Linked DNA regions of Homo sapiens: regions 1, 2 and 4 are each linked to region 3. Evidence: fine-mapped expression QTL. A gene starts in region 3. Each other region holds a variant in brackets. All regions are shown on one strand. Distances are from middle to middle.

Region 1 (2,628 bases), 100 kb after region 3:
CTATCCATGAGCATGGAATGTTTGTGTCATCTCTGATTTCTTTGAGTAGTATTTTGTAATTCTTGTTATAGAGATCTTTCACCTCTCTGGTTAGCTGTATTCCTGTATTTTATTCTTTTTGTGGCTATTGTGAATGGGATTGTGTTCTTGATTGGGCTCTTGGCTTGATTGTTGTTGGTATATAGGAATGTTAGTTATTTTTGCGCATTGATTTTGTGTCTTGGGACTTGGCTGAAGTTGTTTATCAGCTTAAGGAGATTTGGGCTGAGACTATGGGGTTTTCTAGATACAGCGTCATGTCTGCACACAGGGATAGGTTGACTTCCTCTCTTCATATTTGAATGCCTTTTATTTCTTGCCTGATTGCTCTGGCCAGGACTTAAGTACTATGTTGAATAGGAGTGATGAGATAGGGCATCCTTGCCTGGTTCCGGTTTTCAAGAAGAGTGCTTCTACCTTTTGCCCATTCAGTATGATGTTGGCTGTGGGTTTGTTATAGCTTATCCCTTTATTATATTCGTGTTTCTGTTGGAAACAGATGCATCATTTCAACTTTTAGCATCTTTTTAAAAAACGTAACTGATAATAATGATCAGATCTTAATATTTTAGAAATTTTGAATCAATAAATTGCGAATGCAGTGATTTAAAAATATAAACCCCGGAACCAAACTGTCTGGGCTCACATCTCAGCTCTGCCATTTGCTAGCTGTGTGACTTCAGATTACTTAACCTTTCTCTGCTTAAATTTCTTATTCTTATATAAAATGGGGATGATAAGAGTACCTTTCTCTTAGCCCAAAAGAACCTGGCACATAGAAAGTACCATTACTGCTGCTGCTACTACTATTACTGCTGCTGCTGCTGTTACTGTATCTATGCCATATTTCTCCAAAATCTTTATTCTCCAACATACCCCAAACACCACTGTCTCAGCTGCATTATTGAGTCCAGAATATGTTGAAAGAGAATAATAGATGTATTTTCATTCTTGATTATAGCCAAAAGGCCAAGAAGTGATATGTAGACATATTTCTAAATGAAAGAATGAAGATACAAATTAAAAC[C/T]AAACTAGGAGGTAAAGTGATTTGACAGCATTCCTGTTTAAGAGTCTGCTCTGCACTGCCCCTTCTGACCCACCTTTATTTTGCAGAAGATACTGGTTTTTCTTTTTAACTTAATCCTTAGCATCAAGGACATGTGACTTGTGCTTCATTTTCATTGTCTAGGATTTTCCTTGGAGATGCTGCTGATCTATGCCAAAAGTCTGGGATGTATGCACCACTTCTGTGTGAGTTTATTCTGATTGAACTAGGCTTAATTAGATTCTCTTTTCTTTTGTTTTCTCTTTAAAAACTTGGAAACCATTTTGTTGTTCCTGAGTTGTAAGGCTGAACATGTTTGCTTAAGTAAATCTCTTGGGATCTAATCTGGCATCCACTCAGGTCTTGTTAAATGAGAGCTTTAAAAGCCTCTTGCTGAGTGGGCTCCATCATTGTTGACCAAATGTTTCAAGATGTAGGCACAAAGCGCTTTTGTCAGTTTTTCAAGTGTAGTTTAATTTTGAAGTAATTGTGCTTTTCTACTTTTAAAGTATTTAAAAAGTACTTTTAAAGAGTACTGTTAAAGATTAAAAAACACAGGAGTGGCAAGTTTAACAAGATCACATTCTTCTTGTTTCTTTATAAATTTCTGTTACCCATCTGGTTTACTTGGAAGCAATGCTGAACTTAACTTATGTGACTGTTTTATCTAGAAGAGGCAGCAAGATTTTTCTCTTCATGTAAAGCAACTAGGTAACATTTGTCTTCTTCCAATGGATATGTAAAAAGGGGGTGTAGTCCCTTCAGATTACTCTTGGCTCTTCACCCCCCTCCTCATGCTGCAAAGCAGATTTTTTGTTATTAAACAGATTTTTAATTTATTTTAGCAGATTTTTAATTTATTCAGTCCTCTGCTCTTTATATTACACACCCACCATTGATGCATACTGGCATACAGATAAATCAAAGTCTAATTCAGAGAAATTGGCTGCAAGAATTCTTAAAGACTATATTGTGGTTTACACAGAAACCAATTTCCTGTAGTCAAAATTGAGATAATAGAAGAGTAGAATTATCTTAATTCATAATAGTATAAGTATGAGGCCGTTGGAATTAGCAGGAGATCTGTCTGGGGCAGCCTTGACAATCAGAGCAGAGCCATGTCCCAGAGTCAGCCAGGCCAATGACCATCCCCAGTTATGGAGGTGTTGAAAACCTGCACGGTGAAAGTCCTGCAAATGCTGTGCATTGTGCTGAATCATTGCACATGCTTCCAGTCCCCTTAGCCCCTTTTCATGGGAACCATACCTTCTTAGAACTTGAGATTACTAAATATGAAAAATATCTGTCTAAGTTTCCTTTTTACTTTGGAGATAGGAACCCTGAGAGATAACCCAAATCACTGTTTTTATTTTATAGATTTGGAAACTGAAGCTGGAGATGTTACATAGTTTACACAAAATCACCCATGACTTCTTGGCTGAGCTGCAACTTAACCCGGGTCTCTGGCTTCCCAAATTAGTGTTCCTTTCACTGATCCATGCTGTCTTTGCTTATCCATTCAATTAGCAAATGTAATTGAAGGA
Region 2 (2,709 bases), 220 kb after region 3:
CCTACTTTTTTAAAGGGATCACTCTGGATGCTGTGTGGAGAAGAGTCTGTAGGAGCAAGGCTGGAAACAAGGAGACCAATTCGGAGGCAATAGTAATAACCCAGTTGAGAGGTGGTAGCTGGGACCAGAATGTTAAAATGATGGAGGAGGCAAGAAGTGGTTAGATTCTGAACCTAGAAAACAGAGCCACTAACTGATGGATGGCATGAGAGAGAAAGTAGGGAGTCAGGGATAATCCCACTGTCAGTGGCCTGAGAAAGCAGAAGAAAGAAGTTGCCATTTCCTATATGGGGAAGATCATGGGGGGAAGATTTGGGGAGGATTGTAGGAAGTTTAGGAGAAAAAAATCAGAGATTTATATGAGATGCCTTAATAGACATCTAAGTAAAGAAGAACAACAGTCCAAGGACTGAGCCCTGTGTTACTGTAACTTTAGTGGTTAGGAAAATGAGGGGGGACAAGCAAATGAGACTGAAGCAGAGAGATCAGTAAAGTAGGGGAAAAACATGGGAGCAGTGTCCCAGGAGCCAAATGAAAACAGTATTTTAAGGAGGGAATGATGATCTGTGAGTTGAGTAATAGGGCTGAGAATCATTTGGATTTGGCAAAAGAGCTATCACTGGTGACTTTTTCAAGAGTTTTGGTGGAGTCTTGGAAATGAGAGTTGGATTGAGAGTGGGAGAGGAATTGGAAACAGTAAGTATAGAGAATTCTTGAAGAGCTTTGCTGCAGAGGAAAACAGACAAATGGGATAGACATTGGCAGCAAATAAGGGACCAGGAGGAGTTTTATTATATTTTTAAAATAGGAAATGTTATGGGATTATACGGATGGAAGTGGAATGATCCAGTAACGAGGGGAAGTAATGGCACAACAGAGAGGCTACTTGCTAAATGCTGCCTTTCGAGTAGTTGAGAGGGAAGGGGTTTAACTGTGGCCAAATCTCTGCAAATTAAAGGAACCAGCAAAAACAGATCAGATCACATTTCAGCCCGTCAGCATCTTACGTGAAGGATAGAATAGAATTGTAATCAATTATACAGTTTTCAACACGAACAAAATATTTGTGCTGGAAAGGAATTACCTCTGAGTGTGACCCTGTACAAGCCACCCTCTACTGACCATTCATTTTCTCATC[T/C]ATGAAGTTGTCATAAACCATCTAGCTTAATATTAAATGCTTTCTGGAAATGAAAACAAAAGATATAAGGACAATCACACATGATAGCAGCATATGGAAAAACTGGAACCCTTATACATTGCTGCTGGGAATATAAAATGGTGCAGCCACTTTGGAAAATAGCTCGGTAGTTCCTCAAAAGGTTAAACAGTGTTGGCACATGATCCAGCAATTTCACTCCTAGATGCATAAGGAAAAAAATATATCCACACAAAGCTTGTACACAAATGTTCATAGCAGCATTATTCATAATAGCTAAAAAGTGGAAACAATCCAAATATCCCCCAACTGATGATTGGATGAACAAACTGTCATATCTGCACAATGGAAGATTGCTTGGCCATACGAAGGAATAAAGTACTGATCCATGCTACCACATGGATGAACTTAAAAACATACCAAGTGAAAGGCGGCAGATGCAAAGGGCCACATATTGTATGATTCTACTTATTTGAAGTATTGGATAATAGGCAAATCCATACAGACAGTAGATGAGTGGTTTCCAAGGACTGGAGAGGGGGAAATGGGGAGTGACTGCTAACGGATATGGAGTTTTTTGGGGGGAGTGATGAAAATGTTCTGGAATTAATAGTGGTGGTTCACAACTTTGTGGATATATTTTAAAATCACTGAGTTGTATACTTGTAAATAGTGAATTACCTCTCAATTTTTAAAAAGCCTAAGGAAAATATCATGAGTTAAGATCTTTTGATAAGTGGTTCTCAACTGTGGCAGTTTTGCTTGCCAGGGGGGACACATGGCAATGGCTGGAGACATTTTTGGTTGTCCATTTTACTGGCATTTAGTGGGCAGAGGCCAAGAATGTTGCTAAACCTCTTATAATGCACGGGACAGCACCCACAACAATAGTTATCCTGCCCAAAATGCCAGTCAGGCAAAGTTTAAGAAACGCTGCTCTAGGTGTATGTTCCACAAGACCTGAACTCAGCATATCAAAACCTGAGCTCCTCATTTTCCCCCAAAGCCCTGCTTCTCCTTCTGGTCCTATCCCACGACTCCTCCCAGGCTTTCAGGACCCATCCCTGACTCCTCCATTCCTCCACCCATTCTCCTTAGCTAATTCTAAATCTCTAGTGCCTATTATAGGCCCTCACCAGTTCTTATCTAGGGCAGCAGTCCCCAACATTTTTGGCACCAGGGACTGGTTTTGTGGAAGACAGTTTTTCCATGGGTGGTGGTTGGAGGAATGGTTTTGGGATGAAGCTGTTCCACCTCAGATCATCAGGCATTCGATTCTTGTAAGGAGCACACAACCTAGATCCCTCACATGTGCAGTTCGCAATACGGTTCAGGATCCTATGAGAATGTAATGCAGCTGCTGATCTGACAGGAGGCAGAGCTTAGGCAGTAATGCTTGCTCACCGGCTGGCCACTCACCTGCCCCGCAACCCAGTTCCTAACAGGCCACGGACCAGGTCAGTACTGGTCCTCAGCCCGGGGGTTGGAGACCCCTGATCTAGGGCACTTCAGTATCTGCAGCGACACCTTTTATTTTCCCTAACAGCTTTTTA
Region 3 (2,709 bases):
GGAGGTTGCAATGAGCCGCGATCGCGCCACTGCACTCCAGCCTGGGAGACAGAGCAAGACTCCATCTCAAGGAAAAAAAAAAAAAAAGAACGTGATGACTAGAAAACAAAAACTACAATGTTCTTTGAAGTTGAACAATCAGTTTGAAAAATAAATAAAACCTTATTAGAAGTCGGCATCATCAAACAATCCTTCAAGTTTACCCTTGAAAGGAACAGAACGAAAGAGAAAGGCTGTCCTAAGCTCCTTCCCTAAACCCGAAAAGCACTTTGAGGACGATCGACCCACTTTTAGTTTCTATTCAAATGATCTCTTTAAATCCTTTAGGAATTGAGCACCAAACTTGTAACTATTAATTGTTCGTGCACAGCTCGTAGAAATTTTAACATTAGCAGAATGCAGACAGCTGAAAAATCAAGATTTATTTTCCCATCTAAAGCCTAACATAATAGCAATTCATAACCACTGTGTGAAACCGGAAATCTAACACTGTGTATGTCTAAAGTCAAATGCCAGTGTTTTCTAACAAAACTTTTACCAATAAGGTGTGTACACACACCCACACAGACGCACGCTAAGCTCAATTTTTTACTAATAAGGTGTACGCGCGCGCGCGCACGCTAAACTCTAGCCACAGATTCCCTAAGCCAGGAGTGCAAGTCGGTCGGGACTAGTCCACACCTTGCGAACGGGGCGGGGTGGGGAATGGATTCCAGGTGAAGCAGGCCATCAGCCAGAACCGCCAACTCCGCCCGCGGCCCTCAAAAGTAGGCGGCGCAGGGAGTCTCCGCCCCCTTCGCCACCGGCGACTCAAACCAAAACAGCTGGGTTTCTCTCCGCAAAGGCAAACCCCAGCGTCCTTCTCGGACGCGACCTACGTGTTTTCTCAGCTTACTGCGCCGGTAAAACCCACACTGCCCTCAAAACAGTCACCCCAGAGTTTAGCCTTGGACACCAGAAGCTTTTCCTTCGGGGGTCGCCAGCGTCACTCGTCCCCAGCCAAAGGGCCCCCGTCCCACACGCCTCCCCCAAATCGCGAAGGCCTGTCCCACGGGCCTCCCACCGCGTGGGGCGGCCACCCGTTGCCATTCCAAAACTCCACAGCTGATCCGAGTCGCCCACACCCCCGTCACAATCGCAGTCTGGAAAGGAAGGTTTGTCTTCGGGAAGGAAAGCCTCGTCACCACAGAGACCTCTCCCGAGACCGGCCAGGCCCCTACAGTACAGGGGCTGAAGGGTGTAGCACGAGCCCTAAAAGAGATGCAGCTGGAGGCCGCCCCGCACAAGGCGCTGGGGTGGACCGGGGAGGCGCCTTACCCAGTGGAAAGACTCCCGGATCAAGGGAGAAAGTTACGCAGGCTTCCGATCCTGATCCGCCATCAGCCGCCGAACCTCTTCCGCCACTACCGCCTACCCCCAAAGACCGGCTACACCTCCCCTCCCAGCCGACAGTAGGCCTTGCGTCACTTCCGCCCACGGGGCGGTCTCTTCCGCCTCCTGCCTGGTTCGCCGCTCCCCTCCGCGACGACACGCCCCCAGCCCACTCCGCCGCGGGACGCCTCATCCCGCGGGTAGGCTGGCTCTCTCCTTACTTCGTCCTTGCTATTTTCGTTCAACTTAATCGCAGCAAAACAATGCGTCTGGATTTACATTCTGATTTTATGTTATTATTTTGACATACGAAAGGGGGAAACACACAGGAGGTTTAAGTAACTCACCAGCGATGTGGAAAGGGCAGCTCAGAGGTCCATGGACAGTACCGTATCCCTGTCTGCGTCTCAGTCGGCCTAAACTAGCCCACTCATTTTATAGATAAGGAAATAGCCAGAGAAGCAAGGGAGTGACCACACGGCTAGGGCTGCAAACCCCTGAGCACCAAGACTGTCTCTGAACTCCTGGCCCAGTCGTGTGCTTTTTTGGCTATGAAGTTTTGTTCACTGAAAGCTCCTAGGAGCTTTTCAGTTCTAATGCCCTCTGATTCTATTTGCTCTCGCTCCAGCAGAGGCCTCTTTTCTAGCCGCATTTCTGTGAGTTACCTGCTTTTGTTATCCGTATCATTTTCCGTGTGTGAATTTTCTCCCGCGTTCTGTTATTTCTAAAATCACTTTTGCTTGTTGTATATGTTGCCTTCCTATATTGGACATTCAGTTTGAATCGTAACTCCACAGAAGCAAATGTGTCCCATTCGAATTCATCATAGTCTTCTGTTGCCGTAAAACCCTGACAAACCTTGCAATAGCACCAGAAAGGATATGTAAATTAGATCGCATTAAATGTTGAAGCACATTCTAAATACAGAACATTCAAAATTATCTTTCATATACTTTCATCTTTACTTCCAGTTATTTCAGAAGACATTAGCTTTGATAACATAGGTTCTCAATATTTACAGACTGATTTGTTTCCTGTGTATTGACATTTTTGAACTTGGTCTTGTGCTGGGTATTATACTTGATCATAGAATTTCAGAAGAACCTTAATAGGCCATTTAGTCCCAGTCTCCTTATTTTATGGATGAAGAAAACGGTGTGAATAATCAACATAAGTTATCACTTGCGTTACTGGTAGCAACCTTCTGGTAGTAGAAATAACTGTGTCCCTTAAGAAATGTAAACATAGCAGTGAATTTTATAAGCACAATTTGTCAGAGATGTCACTCTTTGTTTAAATCACATTCCTATTTATATGTAATACATTTTTAATTACCAC
Region 4 (2,709 bases), 28 kb after region 3:
GGATATCTTTATTTTCCAAACCCCAGTGGTGAACCTCCTCGAGGCCAGCCATTCATCACATGTTCCCCGACTCATATGGCTCATGCTTGAGCCAGGTAAACCACAGCCTCTTCACTGCCAGCCAGGCATCAGACAAATCCAGGCTCAAACCTGGGCTCAGTACGAAATTACTAATAGTAAGTGCTTAATCTTTCTAATTTTCAATTCACTCCTTGTGGAATTGTGATTAGGATATCTCCCACAAGAGTCTTTGTGAAGGTTAAATAAGAAAATGAATGCCAAGCACTTAATGCAGAGGCTGGTCCACATCACCACAGGCTCAGTAAATGGTGGCCAACATCATTAGTACGTGTTTATGATATCACAACTACTTTACATCAACAGTTAGGTGGACAATACATATCAAAAGAAAAAAGGACTTTCTTTTACATAGTCTCTCACCCATGTAGAACCTACTCAGTAAACCAGTGGTTCTCAACCTTGAGATACACATTAAGAGTCACCTGTTTACCCTTGAATCTTAATAATGTCCTACTCTCTTAAGATAGAAGTACAAATAGCACACGTATGGACCTGGGTACTACTGGTTTCTTAATTATGGTCTATCTTTATTAACAACTCCAAATCGTAATTGAACACAGTTTCCCTGCATTTATTGGTCTTAGGAGTCTGATGGTTAAAGGCAAGAAATTTGACTTTAACACTAATGTGTTGATATTTCACACTTACATTTACTAGCTGGGGCCACATGCCCCAGCCTGACCTTTGTTTCTATCCAAAGTCCTTTCTGCAAAGTGCAGTCATTTCTGCCCCATAGCAGGAGCTAAAGCACTTGCTAAATAAATGAATTCACAGCAGAGAATGGCTAAATGCCCTTCATGTTACAATGTTGGATGAACAATGAGTGGTTCATGGATAAGAGACGTGGCATACTGGCCAGGCGCAGTGGCTTATATCTGTAATCCCAGCACTTTGGGAGGCCGAAGTGGGCAGATCACCTGAGGTCAGGAGTTCGAGACCAGCCTGACCAACATGGAGAAACCCCGCCTCTACTAAAAAACACAAAATTAGCTGGGCGTGGTGGCGCATGCCTGTAATCCCAGCTACTCAGGAGGCCGAGGCAGGAGAATCGCTTGAACCTGGGAGGTGGAAGTTGCGGTGACCTGACTTCGCGCCATTGCACTCCAGCCTGGGCAACAAGAATGAAACTCCATCTCAAAAAAAAAAAAAAAAAAAAGAGAGAGAGAGAGAGAGACGTGGCATCCTTTCTTTGAAATATACCAAGGGGAGGCAATGCGATGAGCTTCTGAGTCAGACACATCTGTGTCCCTGGGGAGATCAATTAACCTATCTGAGTCTCTATAAGGATGAAGATAATGACAGCACCTACCTCCTGAATGGTTGGGAGGATTAAATGAATCCATCAATGAGCAGTGCACAGCTTTTAAGACATAGTCTCCTTGATGCTGATCTCACATCCTTTCTTTTTTTTTTT[TC/C]CTTTTCTGAGACAGAGCTTTGCTTTGTTGCCCAGGCTGGAGTGCAGTGGCACCATCTCGGTTCACTGCAACGTCTGCCTCCTGGGTTCAAGCGATTCTCCTGTCTTAGCCTCCAGAGTAGCTGGGATTACAGGTGTGCCACCACCACGCCCAACTAATTTTTGTATTTTTAGTAGAGACAGGGTTTCGCTGTGTTGGCCAGGCTGGTCTTGAACTCCTGACCTTGGGTGATCCGTCTGCCTCGGCCTCCCAAAGTGCTGGGATTATAGGCAAGAGCCACCATGCCTGGCCTCGTATCCTTTCTTGGGGTTGCCCCAACCTCTCTTTCTTATTTTCATTCACTTTCTAGTTTCTGACCAGGGATCTTCTTTGGGAAGATTACATCTGGAGAATCATGTTTATTTCTGAGCATTTGAAGAGGGCTTTGTCCAGGACTATAAAGGCCAGAAAACTGTCATGTGAAAAGTGGACTTTTAGACATTAGGTAAAAACTAAGGCAATGTGAATAAAGTATGGACTTTAGTTAATAATATCAGTTTATTAGCTGTAACAAATGTACCATAATGACATAAATAATAGGGGAAACTAGGTGTGGGGTATGTGAGAACTCGCTGTAATATTATTGCAACTTTTATATCAATCTAATACTATTCTAAAATAAAAAGTTTATTCACTGTTAAAAATATTTATCAATATTAAAACCATAAAAGTCAAAATTTACATATATGTTTATAATTTATTCCTATATGTACATGACAAGAAATTATCAGAATAAAAGTGGAATTTTTTTTTTTTTTTGGTAGAGTCAGTGTCTCACTATGTTGACCAAGCTGGTCTCAAACTCCTGGCCTTAAGCAATCCTCCCATCCTCGCCTCCGAAAGTGCTGGGATTATAGGCATTGAGGCACCATGCCTGGCCAAGAAATTATTTTAATGGACCTCTAGTCAGGAATAAGAAACACATTGGGGAAATAATAATATTGGTTACTTTCTTAAAATATTTGCAGGCCTCTATTGTGTGGAAGGTAAGATATATGCCGTATAGTTCCCAAGGCAGAAATAATGAGCAGAAATGACAGATAATCCAGTTTTACCTCAGTTGATGATTAAAACTGTACCCCCACATACACACACAAAATGGACACATTGTAAAGTAGTATATAAACTCTTTGAAAGTTGTCATGCAGAAGGCAGATGACCACCCATTGAGGGG

Direction of the effects. Positions count from the first base shown, and alleles are read on the strand shown. Sizes are in standard deviations (SD) of each study's normalised expression. Not every link is listed here.
For the expression in monocytes of the gene that starts at base 1,425 in region 3, C is the low allele of the variant in region 4 and TC is the other (large effect, 1.7 SD a copy in Quach 2016).

The links. PIP is the estimated chance that this variant, and not a neighbour inherited with it, causes the effect.
Region 1: its variant is the best candidate, but not a certain one, in a credible set for the expression of TAX1BP1 in whole blood (INTERVAL, PIP 0.57).
Region 2: its variant is the best candidate, but not a certain one, in a credible set for the expression of TAX1BP1 in whole blood (INTERVAL, PIP 0.53).
Region 4: its variant is the best candidate, but not a certain one, in a credible set for the expression of TAX1BP1 in monocytes (Quach 2016, PIP 0.68).

What each region holds. Positions count from the first base shown.
Region 1 is chr7:27,635,338-27,637,965 of GRCh38, reverse strand. All of the region lies in intron 2 of HIBADH (3-hydroxyisobutyrate dehydrogenase), which reads left to right. Among named protein-coding and RNA genes, the nearest start is that of TSL, 21 kb to the right of the region's middle. The variant C/T (reference allele first, on the strand shown) is at 1,067.
Region 2 is chr7:27,521,433-27,524,141 of GRCh38, reverse strand. No RefSeq gene overlaps it. Among named protein-coding and RNA genes, the nearest start is that of TSL, 93 kb to the left of the region's middle. The variant T/C (reference allele first, on the strand shown) is at 1,139.
Region 3 is chr7:27,738,878-27,741,586 of GRCh38, reverse strand. TAX1BP1 (Tax1 binding protein 1) reads right to left here and starts at 1,425. Exons shown (of 17, transcript NM_006024.7): 1 at 1,318-1,425. It overlaps TAX1BP1-AS1 (TAX1BP1 antisense RNA 1), which reads left to right and starts at 912. Exons shown (of 2, transcript NR_187572.1): 1 at 912-1,571. RefSeq lists enhancers at 1-627, 1,142-1,411, 628-1,490 and a silencer at 742-974.
Region 4 is chr7:27,710,487-27,713,195 of GRCh38, reverse strand. All of the region lies in intron 2 of LOC105375211 (a long non-coding RNA gene), which reads right to left. Among named protein-coding and RNA genes, the nearest start is that of TAX1BP1, 28 kb to the left of the region's middle. The variant TC/C (reference allele first, on the strand shown) is at 1,496.